3 separate regions of the Homo sapiens genome follow, and all the other regions are reported to be linked to region 3. Evidence: microRNA targets listed by miRTarBase, many of them from high-throughput screens and not tested one by one. Region 3 holds a microRNA gene; each other region holds the end of a gene's coding sequence.

Region 1 (5,209 bases), not on the chromosome of region 3:
CAAACACAATTTTGTTTTAATTCATAGTGGGAGGAAAAAATCATTCTGAAATTTTTATCCATGATAAATTATTAACATTTCTAAAACATAAAAAGGAAGAGATATATTTTAAAGCACGAATTATTTTCTTTGTTTAGTAATCTTGAAGAGAGCTCATACAGCTCTTGTATTTTTCATTGGTGGGTTAATAATTTTTATATCACATAATCAAAACATAATAGGTATTCTGAGCATCCTTGGTGTTTTGGCATTTTACTGAAATCATTTTGAGATCTGGTAGGAAATCCATTCCAGTTGGAGGAAATTCTATGAGATATAATAAATAGAAAACAGCTACATCTGTAGAGCCTTCAGTTCTAACCCTAATGCTGTGCACCATGTTAAATTATCAGAGGAGAGTCCAAGTTCTACTGACTGAAAATATGGCTTTGAGCTTTCCATTTAATCTGGAAGGATAATAGCTTTCACCTACTTGGTCATTCAGAGTGAACATTCTCACTTTCCTTTCCTCACACAGGCACCCCCTTCTCTATAATGCCTTACCCTCTTCTAACCTGTAACTCTTTTAGGTTATCAAAGAAGACTGATATGAAATTGATACTTGTTATAGCTTTATTAAAGCTAAGAAGACAATATTATTAACCGCAAAAGTACAAGTAGGGAAGAGTTCAACAGTCAAGGATAACTTCAAAGATCCCAAAAGAAAAATAAGGGCAAGTTTGACAATGGGACTATTTGGAGATGCTTGCTGAATAACCCCATTTTTCTGGCTTTGTTTCTTTTTTAACGTATTTAGGGCATTCTTATTTTTCCACATTTAAGGCAGAAAAAAAGAGAAACTAAAGAGCCGTGTGACATTGCTTTTTACAGAAAATAATTATAATTCATTATAGTTACTGTAAACATGTATACAGCTTAACAATATTTAGGTCACAAGCGAGACAGTCTTTGAGCGTCAGAACAGCCTTTTAAAAATGGGCTAACACTTTATGAAGTAAAAAGGCAAATAATCAAATAATCATTTTGCTGGAAGATGAGTACCAATGTCATGATACCAAAAGTAACAAGTAAACTGGACCTTAAACTTGTTATATCATTTGTTCATTGTTATTAAAATACATTTAGTTCTCCTGCATCATATAGAAAATTCAATGGGTAAAGGATCATTTAATATCAATAGGCACCCATAAATCTGAATTAGCACCGCTGAACCAAAGAATTTCCAGCACCTGGATGACTTACATACTAATTCTTTAAACAAGTATAATACAAAATCATAGTTCATACTTCTTAAATGGTAATATAAAAAGTCACAGATTACTCATGGGAATAATAAAGCTTGGTTATCAAAGTCTTCCAGGTGCCCAGACATGTCATTTTTTTAAAAATCTGTCATTTTAAGTCTAAAACTAAAGTTATTTCAGTAAAACATAGCTAAAATATATCTGAATTATTTTAAACATTTTTTAGAGAACAACTACCAGAGAAATGTCTTTTCCTTTTTAGTTCCAAGAGCTTAAATGAAACATTCATGCATTAAATTCAAAGTCTGACTGTCAAATCATTTCACTTTAATAAAAATTTGAATTACCTGCCTTAGGGCATTATTAAATATCAAATAAAAAGTACACACACATAAGTCTGATTCCCAATATAATTTTTATATAGAACTCTGACCAGATTTGTATTACACATTTCAAGATAAAAGTATTCATAAAAAAATGAAATAAGAATTAGTCACCTTAGAATTCCTGTACCATTCTTAGGAATTTGGGAGCAAATTATCCCCTTTAAGTAATCTCAGCCACCAAAGTAAGAACACAAATATATCTTCCTTTTAGAAATAGTACCTAAATTGTAATTAACTCAAAACTTTGAAAAACTACACATTATTCATCTATCATATAAAGAATATGAAGTATGTGAAATATACAAAATCTCATAAACAACATTTCTCTGTGTGTGTGTGTGCGCGTGTGTGTGTAAAAGAGAGAGAGAAAATAATAATAGTCATTTAGATATTTAGAGAATGGCAACTCTGGTCTAGGACAAGATACAAACCAAACATTCAAGGGAATAATCTCCCTTCATTAAAAGTATCATTTACAGGTATTGACATTCACAGGGAGTATACTAACTAAACCTAGACTGGAGAAATGCATAAATTCACGCTTTGCAACCCTCATCCCACCCCCGCTGCCTCTTGGCCTCTCCTGTGAACACATCCTTCCCTCTTCCTCTGCTCCTATCCATCTTCACTGCTGCTCTCCCACTCCTAGCTCCTGCCCCTTCATCATTAAATGGTAAGAGCAAGTCATGGGTACACAGCAGCTCTAAACCACCACCTCCTTCTTTCTTCCTTCCCATTGCAGCACAGAGAGTGCCCATCCTCTCAGCAAAAGCCAGTCTCCCTGTGTGCTTAGGATTTCATCCCTTTCAACTTTTCAGACTTCACTGCTCCAGCTCCTCCCAGAAGCAGTATCTTCAGCCTCTCTCCATCTACTTGCTCCTTTCCCACACCCCAGCATATAGACAAGTTCTATTTCTTTTGTTTAAAAAAGAAAAAAAAAAAGACTTCTTCAATCCCACCCCGTCTCTGTTGCTGCGGCCTCCTGCCCCACCCCAGCCCACCAAGGTGGCTGCGACCTGGAGTCTCCAGCTCCTCCCTTCCTATGGCCTTTAGCCTGCTGCAACCACATCCCTCCTTGATGTGTCACTCGACCGCCAGTGTGGCAAAACTCTCTAACCTCTGCCCATGTCGTGGTGAAGAAAAAGGGCTCTGCCAGTCAAGCTGCCTGGATCTCCTTCAGCTCCACTGCTCAATCACTGTATTACTTTGGCCCGTAACCTAACTTATCTGTGTCTTGGCTAACTTGTCTGTAAAGCCTCCCACAAGATTTTATGCACACTTAATTAAGTAACCCCATTAGATCCATCAGAACATTATATGAACATATACAATGTCTACACCCAATACGTCCCTATTTCAACCCAGACTTGTTTTCTGTTCTCTACTCTTGAAATGCTAATGACCTTCATGACCAGAGTCCGCTATTGCAGTTTGTGGTTGACAGGCATCTCTCACTCACTGTGCTGCAACTCAACTCTTTATCTTCAACCAAACAGGGCCTCCCCGCAGCTTTCCCACTGCCACTCAGTGGCACTCCATCCAGGGTTTCCAAAGTGTAAGACCCCGGAATTTATCTTTGACACTTCCATCTCCCTCCACCCCTCATCCAATTCATCACTAGCTATAACCTGCGATTTCTATTTCATATACATCAACTTCTCTCCACCTCCACTGTTCCTATTCTAGTGTCCAAGCCTCCGCATCTATCACCCTGGCTACCTGGCAGACTTCTTCGTTTTTTTGTTTTGTTTCATTTTGTTTGAGACACGATCTCAATCTGTCACCCAGGCTGGAGAACAGTGGTGTGATCTCAGCTGACTGCGGCCTCCACCTCCCAGGCTCAAGTGATCCTCCCACCTCAGCCTCCTGAATAGTTGGGACTACAAGCGTATGCCACCACACCCAGCTAATTTTTAAATTGTTTATAGAGATGAGATTTCGCTGCTTCCCTAGGTTCTATTCCAACAGATGCCTTCCCCTTGGGAAGCTGTGGTTTGCCAGTGATGTACAATGACCTATGCACTTAGGAAATTTACAAGGTAAATAAATAATCCAATATATAGTTTGTTTTATATTTTATCTCTTCCGTGTTTGTGATATTTTATTTTGTTAGTTCCTTAAGAGTAAGGAATACATACATTGAATTCTATATATTAAAATACATAGATTATGTTTCAATCAATAGTGTATCATATTCAGATAATTAATAAGTGCTTCTCAATTTATCATATAAAAGGCACTTCCATAGAAGAAGTATTTCAATGCATGCCAGATATGCTCCCTCCCCTGAGAAACAAGAGGATCAATTCTGCAGGAGACGAGAAGGGTCCACACTGAGGCTCACACGCTCCCCAAGTCCCCTCCTATGTGCTCCTTGGTCACTGGGACATGACTGGTGCTGCTTCACGGGGACAACATGGTAAGTTACTAAAGAGGTATGCATGCATGTCACTTTTTCTGGGCCTGAGGGTGTCTGTTCTTATGAAAGCCACCAAAACTTGGAATTAAAGGCTACTCTGATAGGAAAATATAATCATAGTTTTTCTTCAATACTGCATAAAATTAAAATACCTACTTGACCTGTAATTAACAGAGCTCAAGAATGTGTCATAAATTTTATCAAGATGAAGTACATACGCTTTTATTACTAAATTACCAGGATCACAATAAGTGTACCTTTGGTACGCTAGGTTTAAGTAGCTGTGCACCTCATTTTCCTTACTTAATCTGGACATACCCTCATGAAGACAGACTTGTTCCTGTCCTCTTTGGCTACTGAAATGCAGCTCTAATGACTCTGTCACTAAGAGGCTGAGTGGGCCGAAAGTTGTCTCCCAAAATCCCATCACAGCCTTCCACAAGTTCTGCCCCCTTAACATGTGTCCTCAGCCTTCGAAATTCTTCTATCTGAAAATAAAAGCAGAAGAAAATAGATTAATCAATTATCGGACATTAACAAGATTGGAGTTTCATAAATGACATGCATAAAATATGTATAAATTACAAGAATTATTGAAGAGAAAATTAAAATTAAGCTTCAAAAAGAAAAAAAACAGACTTAATTCTTCCAGACCTAAGACGTTAGAGAGGACCCTTTCAAGAAATGACAACAGAAGTAGACATATCAAGATCTCTGAACAACTCAAATAGATAAAGAAATCTGCTCCATTTGTTAATGTAAAAATGATACAGGCCGGGCACAGTGGCTCACGCCTGTAATCCCATCACTTTGGGTGGCCAAGGTGGGCAGGTCACAAGGTCAAGAGTTCAACAGCAGCCTGATCAACACGGTGAAACCCTGTCTCTACTAAAAATACAAAAATCAGCCAGGCTTGGTGGTGCACACCTGTAATCCCAGCTACTCAGGAGGCTGAGGCAGGAGAAATCACTTGAACCCATGAGGCGGAGGTTGCAGTGAGCCGAGATCACACCGTTGCACTCCAGCCTGAGTGACAGAGCCAGACTCCATCTCCAAAAAACAATGATACAAACCTCTCCCAAAAAGGTTTTATGCCTATCTATAGCATAATAAGAAAAAGTGAACAAATGAATGTGCTCTTAAATGCTTTCCAAGTACAT
Region 2 (5,209 bases), not on the chromosome of region 3:
AGGAAAACCCAAAAGTGGTCATCTCTGTTTTAGAGAAATACCTTTTAGTTTTCTGTGTGACACAGAGTGATGTGGCTATACTGGTATACACTTGCTAGGCCAGTTTACTTATTTTGAATGAACTGTATAAAATTTGATTTGCTTATTCACAGCTTCAATCGAATAGACATTCCACCCTATGAAAGCTATGAAAAGCTATATGAAAAGCTGCTAACAGCCATTGAAGAAACATGTGGATTTGCTGTGGAATGACAAGCTTCAAGGATTTACCCAGGACTCTATTTATACAACCCTGACTGACAGCCTCCTTTCAGCAGAGTTTCAAAGAATATGCTGAAATACAGGAAAACACTCCCCCCCCCCCCCTTTTTTTTTTTTTTTTTACATTTTAGGACACTGTGAGGGGAAAGGACAATTTTGAAATTCCTTTTCAAGGAAAAAAAAGGTCTTTATGCTTTGCCATGAGGCCACATTCAGCTGCTATTTAAACTTAATATCTTGAACCTAAAGAATGCTGACTTTTCCTACATTTCCAGAGTTAGGCAGTATTCTACACTTAAAGACTACTACTATTTTTATAAAAGGTAATCTATTCAAATTTCTTCACAGATTTCAAGTCTCTCAAACATCAAGACAACTTCAGCAGTCGGTACAAGTCACATTTCATTTTGATTGAATACATGATCTTGAACAGCTCCTGTACTTGCTCTTTGTAAAAAAAAATAAAATTATTTTGAATTATTCTACCTTTGTAAACAATTGGCTAAAAGAATCATCTTTAAGAAATTAAGCCATTTACATGTTTGTGTTTTTCTATAGCAGAGCATTATATTTTGCATTATATGTTTCAACCTAGTCTAAGTGGGTCTTTTTTACATTTTTCAAGAACGGATTTCCTGGAATACAGCGATATAATTTTGGTTGTCAAATTCCTAATGCAACCATTTAGTCTAAACTTAGTCATTTATTTGTGACAATAAGATGTGTTCAGGGGCTCCCTGTTTTTAAGAGACTCTTTTAAAAAAAAAAAAACCTAATGTTTTTATCTTGAGTCAATATGATTAGGTATTTTGGATTTACTTTTAATCTTAAAATACTGCATTTTTATAGCTTCTCAGAGCATGTGGATGGGATGGGATTTTCGTTATTTTGCTGGGTCAGCTTATCTTTAATATATGGACTATTCCTATAAACCAAAGTCTCTGACAAGTGCACCTAATTTATATTGTATTTTAACTACAGTGTAAGTTTCCATTAACAAAACCATCCTAAAGCGTTAACTGCTCATAATTTTAATCAGCTACAGTTATGAAAAAGGAAGAATTTTGCTCTAAAGATTATTAATAAGCTTAGAAAATCCTGCTTTTACCTAACAGAATGAAGTGGGGTTGAGGGGCGGTAGTATGAACAGTGATTCTAACTCTATGGCGTAAATTACTTTGAAGAGTTCATTTTGGAAGTAAGGGAATCCCGCTTCCCTTGGTGTTGAAGATCTGCATCTGATTTTGAAACGTCCAGATTTAGCTTTCAAGGTGCGTGCATGTTGAATGATCCAGAAGCAACGAAAACTCTGGGGTGAGGGATTGAAAAAATCTGAAATCACAGTTGGATTTTTAAATTCAACCATCAAAAATATGTACTATCAGTTTTTTTTTACATTGATGTGAAATAAGCAAATTTTCATGATAATTAAGCTGCAAAATTTAAAGTTATCAAGTAAATAGGTCCTCTGTGTTCTGTTTCATGTGATGGAGTGGGTTTCAGTCTGTGTTCTTGGAGCCAAAGGGTTCCTCAGGGGTGCCTCAGGAGTAATGGTTTAAGAGAAGAGGGGCAATGAGAGGGAGCGAGGGGGAAGGCCTAGTTGGTATTTGAGCAGGGGCCTTAGGCTCCATATCCCCACCCCCTTTACCCAGAACAGCCCATTTTTCTTATGTATATTGGAATTTCAAGTAAGCTTTCATGGGGTGCAGTGGGGCGGGGAGGAATGGATGGGATAAAAAAAGTGGAGATTTTGCTGCTTTAAAAAAGTTGAGAACTACTTGTGTAGTTTTTAAGTATTTTAATGTATTTCATTTGGCCAAATTCAACTGCCACAAGCAAGCTAGTCATAGTTGTAACTGTGCAGTGGTAATATGCTTATGCCTACCTTTTTCCTCTCAAACAATTTGTTTTTTTTACATTGCATTCTGAGTACTGAAGAGCATCTTGAAATGTATGGAAGTGGTTTCTATGCTATTTGATAATCAGTAATGTTCAGCTGTCATGATAGTACTTTACTGGTTGCAGACCCATCTCTCTTTTATATTAAAGCACTAGTGCAGTTTATAATTGTGCCTACTTTTAAAATCTTTCAGTAAAAAAGTACATAATGAATACAGAAATCATAACTGACAGGGATACAGTAATAATGAAATGCTACTATCACTTATTTTAATATACAATATAAAGCAGGCAAATACCATTGCTTTTTGAGTGCCTTTTTAACTTTATACTAATGACTTAATAGAGCTTTAAAAGAAAGAAATTGGCTGGGCATGGTGGCTCACACCTGTAATCCCAGCACTTTGGGAGGCCGAGGTGGGCGGATCACCTGAGGTCAGGAGTTCGAGACCAGCCTGGCCAACGTGGTGAAACCCTGTCTCTACTAAAAATACAAAATTTAGCCGGGCATGGTGGCGCACTCCTGTAATCCAACTACTTGGGAGGCTGAGGCAGGAGAATTGCTTGAATCTGGGAGGCAGAGATTGCAGTGAGCCGAGATCGCACCACTGCACTCCAGCCTGGGCGACAAGAGTGAGACTCCGTCCCCGCCCAAAAAAAAAAAAAAAAGAAATTACTCTCCATAACAGTCTATGTTATCACCAACATATATAAAAACATGATTTAGATTTCCATTTCAAAGTTACATTACCCGATTACTTCCAAATAGGTGCTAAGCAAAAACCCCCAATGTATTATTGAACCATGGACTTGCACCTCATGTTTAATGTGAATATTTATTTCCATGTCCCTCTTAACTGGTTTTTTCTTGTCTTCCCTCTAGCTGTATTGTTATTTCAGATATGTGATATCTGTTTTCATACTCTTGCCTTTCCATCATGAATGCTTAGTTATGAACAGAGATTCCTTTGTAGAGCTCATAGGCAGTACAGAGAGGTAAGTCTTGCCTCAGAGGGCCTTGTATCTTGGTGTAGTTTTTAAATAGTGCATAGTGTATAGTGTATAGTGTACATTTTGTTTTGCACATAGTTTGTTGCCCCGAATGGGTTTTTTACCAAGCCTTTTTTTCTTTCATGTATTTACAGTCCGGAGCACAAGATTCTCTTCTTTCAAATACAATGTAATTCGCTTTACTTTACAACACTAAATCTGGGCTTTGAATTTCCAGTGCATTGGACTGATTGGATTGTTGGGAGTTAGAGGCTGTTCCAACCATCCTTAGTTTGGGAGAGTGGCTCCTTCTGCTTGTTTTCTAAGCGTACAGTCAACGGGTGCCATTTGTGGTATTTAACATGTTAGGATGATTGTTCCAAATGCTGAGTTGTTTTATTTCTAGATGTAATTAGTTCACTTTATGTAATATTCTTCTCTCAGACTGACTTTAAAAACAAAGTTTTATCATTTTCATTGTATTTGTATTTATTACAGAGTGTTTTAGCTTTGATATTCTTTGTATTTTCATTCATTTGTTACATGAGCTTTATCAGTAACATCTGTATAAATGGTTTTTAAAAATTAACTATGTATGTGCCCATGCCGAAGTCGAGCAATAAAATCAATGCTGTTTGCACTGTCACAGCATCAACGTTTTTAAAGAATATTGAGTTTGTAATGAATCGTTTTGAAAACATTTATGGTTGGCTCTATGGAGGGTGACAACATGAGTCACAAAATGAAAAGTTCAAGAACACATGCCATCCTGAGTTGATGCCTCTGTCATGTTGCAGAGCTCAGCTTTCTGTCTCCTCGCAGAGCAGGGAAGGTGCCCGTTTTCTCCGGCCGTGGTGACTGCTCAGTTGGTAGTACCTGTTGGGGGTACCGCATAGGTGGATTTCTGAGGGGGGTCAGGGGCTAGTGGGGAAGAGCATCTTGGTCCTGTCACCAGTCTGCAACCATCTTTGCTATAATACATCTCCGCTCTGTAGGGCAGGCCTATGACAGGGGCTCATATTTGCCAGCCCTACCTTGGTATGTCGAGCAGTAAAATTCTCAAAATGAAAAGGAGAAATCAATTGTATTTTTTCTAGAAGCTGTGGATTTTAAGGTTTATAATTCACTACTGTATTAATGATAGTGGACTAAAGTCCAGCTAACTCTATGGATAGAAAAGGAATGAATATGGTCTGTGTAAGTCTACACAGCATAGGGTACAACAGAAGGGAACACCTGGGAAATGTGTAAGTAGTAGCAGTGTATTAAAGTTCAAAGGGTGAGCATGCTTTTGTTTATATGCTTTAATATTCTTTTGAATATTTTTGTTTTGCTTTGTCCCTCATTGCTGTGTTTACTGGTTTTATCTAAAATTTATAAAGTTTTAGTACATTAAAGATTTTTGGCCGGGTGCAGTGGCTCGCGCCTGTAATCCCAGCACTCTGGGAGGCTGAGATGGGCGGATCACGAGGTCAGGAGTTCAAGACTAGCCTGGCCAACATGGTGAAACCCCGTCTCTTTACTAAAAATACAAAAATTAGCCAGGTGTGGTAGTGGACGCCTGTAATCCCAGCTACTTGGGAGGCTGAGGCAGGAGAATCAGTTGAACCCAGGAGGCAGAGGTTGCAGTGAGCCAAAATCACGCCACTGCATTCCGACCTGGACAACAGAGCAAGACTCTGTCTCAGGAAAAGAAAAAAAAAAAATTAGGCCAGGTGCTGTGGCTTGCGCTTGTAATCCCAGCACTTTGGGAAGCCAAAGCAGGTGAATCTCTTGAGCCTAGCTTGAGACCAGCCTAGGCAACATGGCGAAACCCCATCTCTACAAACAATATGAAAACTAGCTGGGCGCAGTGGCACGTGGCTGATAGTCCCAGCTACTGGAGGTGGGGCTGAGATGGGGGGATTGTTTGAGCCCTGGGAGGCCGAGGCTGCAGTGAGCCATGATTGAGCCACTGTACTCCAACCTGGGCAACAGACTGAGACCTTCCTTGTCTCAAAAACAATTTTTTGTTTTTTAGTATTATAATAGTCTACAAATTATCCAAGTTTGATTTGAC
Region 3 (5,472 bases):
TAAATGTGTAATATGATTTACTAATTAGCACATCAATTAATAACTTAGAGCTAGAAATGTATTTGTTTGAAAGTTTCTTTTTAGTGCTGATACCTTATCTGTTAGTTCAGTTATCCTGTTATTTTAGTTACAGTATCAGCAAATGTTTAAGATACCTTTATGCTTATTACTAACTTTATGATAACTTTATGCTTATTACTAACTTTAAGATAACTTTGGCCAGGTGCAGTGGCTCACGCCTGTAATACCAGCACTTTGGGAGGCTGAGGCGGGTGGATCCCGAGGTCAGGAGTTCAAGACCAGCCTGGTCAAGATGGTGAAACCCCGTCTATACTAAAAATACAAAAATTAGCTGGGCATGGTGTGGGCACTTGTAGTCCCAGCTACTCAGGAGGCTGAGGCAGAGAATTGCTTGAACCCAGGAGGTGGAGGTTGCAGTGAGCTGAGATCACGCCACTGGACTCTAGCCTGAGTGACAGAGCAAAACTCCATCTCAAAAAGAAAAAAAAAAGATAACTTAATGCTTATTACTAACCATTATTTTCTTTGTGTGGTAGTTAAATAAACTTTAAAAAAATCATTTAATTACCACACAAAGAATACCACCAAAACTTTAAAAAGGTTATTTAGGTTATTACCTGCTCCAGACTTTGTGGAGCAGGTAATATGATTTCCGTCTTGCAGGAAAGGAAGTGACATTCAGGCACAGGTTACATACACATTGGAGGTCACAAAGCATAGGTATTAACAGAATGTGGCTCATTCACCCTGTCTTCAGGTGGAAGGTGAAGCTAGTTTGGGGAGTACTGGTTTTTAAATCATATATTAGAGTAGCAAAACGCATGTGAAATGTATCAATGCCTACATTCATCCCTTTAGCAACGTTGACTTTATCTGGTTCTTTAATCAGTTTCCACTAAGAAATGGATAAGGCATAGCTGCTGAAAGTCTTCTTCAGTAGGCTGAGTTGAAGATATTGAGACAGTTTTAGTTCTGGGAGCACAGCATGCTGCCCATCTAGCTCTCCCATTAGCTTTTTCTCCTCCATTTATTTTTATTTTTATTTTTGAGACAGAGTCTCACTCTGTCACCCCGGCTGGAGTGCAGTGGTGTGATCTCCACTCACTGCAACCTCTGCCTCCCAGGTTCAAGCAATTCTCCTGCCTCAGCCTCCCAAGTAGCTGGGATTACAGGTGCCCGCCAGCTCCCCGGCCGATTTTTTTGTATTTTTAGTAGAAATGGGGTTTCATTATGTTGGCCAGGCTGATCTCGAATTCCTGACCTCAGTTGATCCATCCGCCTCAGCCTCCCAAAGTGCTGGGATTACAGGCGTGAGCCACCGTGCCCTGCCCTAATAATGTTTAGTGTGGCAGGTTTGGAACATCATGTATTCTTTCTTTTTAATAAATTCTACTTGTAGATTCAGAGATACATGTACACGGTTGTTACATACCTAGGTAAATTGCATGTTGCTGAGGTTTGGGATATAAATGATCCATCCCATCAACCAGGCAGTGAGCATAGAACCCAGTAGCTAGTTTTCCAAACTTTGTTACCCTCCATTCCTCCCCCATCTCATAGTCCCCAGTTTCTGTTGTTGCCATCTTTGTGTCCATGAGTACTCGGTATTTAGCTCCCACTTAGAAGTGAGAACATGGCTATTTGGCTTTCTGTTCTGCATTAATTCGCTTAGGATAATGGCCTCTAGTTGCATCCATGTTGCTGCAAAGGACATGATGATTTCATTTTTTTTTATGGCGGCATAATCATGCATTCTTTTCATTAGGTACCTCTCTTTGATAATGTAATCCGTTGTGACAACTGTTCAAGTTTTAAGGTGTAGCTTTATTAGCTGATAATGGGGGAAAGGGTTGTTTCAAAGAAGTATATTTGCTTTATCAACATTCTAAGTATTGGAATGATCCAACGATAAGAAAACAATAGACACCCATCGTGTCTTTTGCTCTGCAGTCAGTAAATATTTTTTTGTGAATGTGTAGCAAAAGACAGAATGGTGGTCCATTGAATCCCCAGGATGAAGACATGAGGAGACGTGGGAGGGATGCTATCTGCTGGGAATAGCTATAATAGTCCACTTTAACTTTTCCTTTTCCTCGAAGGAAGTCCATCAGCTGAACCTGGAAAAAGCTGTGTGTCACTAAATCCTGGAAAAAATGCTAAATGGGAAAATCTGGAATGTGTTCAGAAACTGGGCTATATTTGCAAAAAGGGCAACACCACTTTAAATTCTTTTGTTATTCCCTCAGGTAAGTGATCTATGGGATCTGAAGTGCCTCAACTATTAGAATTGAAAGATAAGTAACATTACAGCTTAGGTGTAACTGTTGGAATGCCGCCAGAGGTTTTGTGGATAGTTGATGGGGTAAACTTAATGATATTACTGCAATATTTCTGTGTGCTGGTTGCTAGTATTTCCTGAGTGTGCGGCGGTGTCTGGGCATTGTGGAGATCCTCTGACCTAAATAAAAATGTTACCTTCCCAATCAGTCCTCTGAGGTAGGTGTCATGATTCACATGCTATAGTTGAGGAAAAAGATATTCAGAGGATACAGAAACCTTGCAGACATGGCAAAACCGGAATCCAAGCTAGAAAGTCAACATTTGGAAGGGATGTTTATATTAGGTCCTCACGGCTCTATCTGGGCTTCCTTGCTATTCAGTGTAGCGTCTTATACTAAAGTTTTCATAAAATAGAATAAAATATCTAAAAAGTTGTAACTGAATTTTATTTATTTATTGAGACAGAGTCTCATTCTGTCACCCAGGCTGGAGTACAATGGCGCGATCTCAGCTCACTGCAAACTTCGCCTCCTGGGTTCGTGATTCTCCTGCCTCAGCCTCCCGAGTAGTTGGGATTACAGATGTGTGCCATCACGCCCAGCTAATTTTTGTATTTTTAGCAGAGATGGTGTTTCGCTGTGTTGGCCAGGCTTGTCTTGAACTCCTGACCTTGGGTGATCTACCCACCTCAGCCTCCCAAAGTGCTGGGATTACAGGCATGAGCCACCGTGCCTGGCCTGTAACTGAATTTTAAATATCGGCTAGACTTCAAGAAAAAAAAAAATCAATTGTGTTGTCCCTTACAATTTTATAGGAGAATAAACTACTAAGGCAAGAATTCTTTCTTCCAATTGATGAAAGACAAACTACATATTTTTTATTATTACCTCTTTTTGGAGGGACAGCGAATGCTTTAAATGGTTTAATTTATTTCTGTTTTTCTGCTGGAGGAAACTGACAATGTGGCATTCTTGTTTTTTTCTTCCCATTGGCTTTGAAAGCAATTTCATGTATTTTAAAATACGCTTGACATAGCTAGAGATTCAAAAGATACAACATGATAAATAATAAGGTTTTCCCTACCTCTCACCTGTAACACCCAGTTTACCTTCCTGGAGAATAATTGTTTCTGGGTGTGTATCCTTAGTTATTCTGTGACTATATAAACAAATATATTTATAATTATTTTTGTTTCATACAAATGGCAGTATACTATAATATGTTTTTATCCTAAGTTTTCCACTTAACAACAATTTTGGACATCATTCCACGTAGAATATAAACAGCTTCTATGTTTAATTTTATGGCTGTCCAAAAGCTATTGCAGAGACAGCACATATATTTTTTTGACCGATCTCCTGTGTAATGGATTTTTAATTTAATTTACTTCCAATCTTTTATTAATACAAACAGTCCTGAGGTAAATAACTATATACATTCTATGCACATCATTTCATGCATGTGATCATTCCTGGAAGTGGAATTGTTGGATTAGGGAGGAGATGTGTTTGCAATTTTAATTGATATAGATTTGGCCAAGATCCTAAATAGATATAGATGCGGGACCTGGATGTTGGGTTTGATTATCCTTTACAGGCTCTCCATAGTGACGGTGGGTATCTTTAGAGAAAGCTCACCATTTTTGCATTTTACCTCTACTATTCCTCCTCTAGGAGAAATAGTGTATTTTTTCCTTTTTTGGAAGCCTTCATTACAATTCTCTTTCTAAGACTTGGAATTTCCATGTTGCCAAAGAGGAGAATAGTTACTTTATAGTTTCTCTGGTACAGCACTCAGAATTCTGTAACTTGGCCTTACTGCTTAACCTGCCGGTGCTGGGATCCTCATGTGTAAAATGGAAATGTTCATGACTCTTCTTCCTGAGATAAAATTTTGTTCATTTCATCAAACACTCAGTACATTCTTATTCCTCCATGATGCCTTCTTCACTCGCTAACCACTTGATGTCAGTTTCTGAACATCTCTATACTCCCTGGATTAATGATTCTGTTTTATCTATAAACTCAAATAAACCAGAGCTTGGAAAAGCGTATCAGAGTTCAAATTATGCAGCATACGGGATTAGCAACAGCCTTAGGCAAGAATTCAACCTCAAACCCTGTGAATTATTGTAACACTAACCCGTTTGTCCATAATCCTCAGGTCTCTAGGGCTGTACTCTCTGGCTTAGCAGCCACTTAACCGCATGTGGCCACTGAGCACATGAGCTGTGGCTAGAGGAACAAATCATCTTCTGTGGCTGCCCCAGGGAACTCCCCTTCATTTCACTCAAGTTGGTTGTTTTCATGCTTTCAAATATGTTTAAAGTTCATCATTTCAGTTTTTGAAGGACAGCATTGGCTGATACTATTTTCAATTTCCTAGGTAGCAAAATTAAAATAACCCACCAGAGGGCTCCAAAGCTGTACTAAGCTTGCTTTCTTTTTCTTTTTCTTCTTTTTTTTTTTGTAACCACTGGAAGTGCACAGAATCTAAATTGTATTGAGGGAATAGAATTTTTTTAAATATGCATTTTTTATTACAATTGTACAGCATTTGAGCCTCATGACTGAGTAGTTACTTGTATGACTGCAGGGCACAAAATCCTGGGCTTAAACAATGATGTTTCAGATACTCTCCACCTTTAAGGGAAGATACGACCAATTCATCAAAGGAATAGTGAAGAAAGGTACCCTATAACGAACATATACTAAGACAGCCATTTGAAAACATTTAATATGAGCTTAAATAATATATACGTTCACTTTCATTTGGCAATATAGTCCCCTTCTAAGCAAAACATGTTGCCAAATTACTGTTTGAAATAGTATCTCTAGAATAGTAATAACAAGCAGCCATATATCAACTATAACTTCAATTCTTTTTCTCTTCCAATACTCAATACGCTTATATGTACCAGGCCCTGTGCCAGGCTCAAGGCAATAGGGATGAATAAACATCTGCCTTCAAATGTCTTTATTGTCACTTTCCCCTAGCTCATTACTATTAAATTTTTGCAGCGTATAATCAAGATTATACAATTTGATCCTATTAGTAGCGAGGCTGAGGATGTTGACAGCTGGTTTAATTAAATAATGATTGTGTGGTGCTTGTGATTTACAAGCACACTCTCTCTATTCTTTTCTAGTTCAGAAGAACATGGGGTGGGTG

The links. Region 3 holds the annotated microRNA hsa-miR-511-5p (GUGUCUUUUGCUCUGCAGUCA, at 1,954-1,974, shown strand). A microRNA usually pairs through its seed, bases 2 to 8, with sites in the 3' UTR of a target mRNA and lowers its output. Matches are read on the target gene's strand: a 7mer-m8 pairs with bases 2 to 8, a 7mer-A1 pairs with bases 2 to 7 and ends in A, and an 8mer does both.
Region 1: the mRNA of CA8 is a reported target of hsa-miR-511-5p. The part of its 3' UTR that is shown has no 7-base or 8-base seed match.
Region 2: the mRNA of SMURF2 is a reported target of hsa-miR-511-5p. Seed matches in the 3' UTR shown: 7mer-A1 at 631-637.

The regions. Positions count from the first base shown.
Region 1 is chr8:60,204,383-60,209,591 of GRCh38, forward strand. CA8 (carbonic anhydrase 8) reads right to left here. Exons shown (of 9, transcript NM_004056.6): 8 at 4,368-4,537. The coding sequence ends at 4,403. Among named protein-coding and RNA genes, the nearest start is that of CA8, 74 kb to the right of the region's middle.
Region 2 is chr17:64,540,891-64,546,099 of GRCh38, reverse strand. SMURF2 (SMAD specific E3 ubiquitin protein ligase 2) reads left to right here. Exons shown (of 19, transcript NM_022739.4): 19 at 153-3,818. The coding sequence ends at 252. Among named protein-coding and RNA genes, the nearest start is that of CEP95, 37 kb to the right of the region's middle.
Region 3 is chr10:17,843,169-17,848,640 of GRCh38, forward strand. It overlaps MIR511 (microRNA 511), which reads left to right and starts at 1,939; the gene lies at 1,939-2,025. It overlaps MRC1 (mannose receptor C-type 1), which reads left to right. Exons shown (of 30, transcript NM_002438.4): 6 at 2,121-2,267.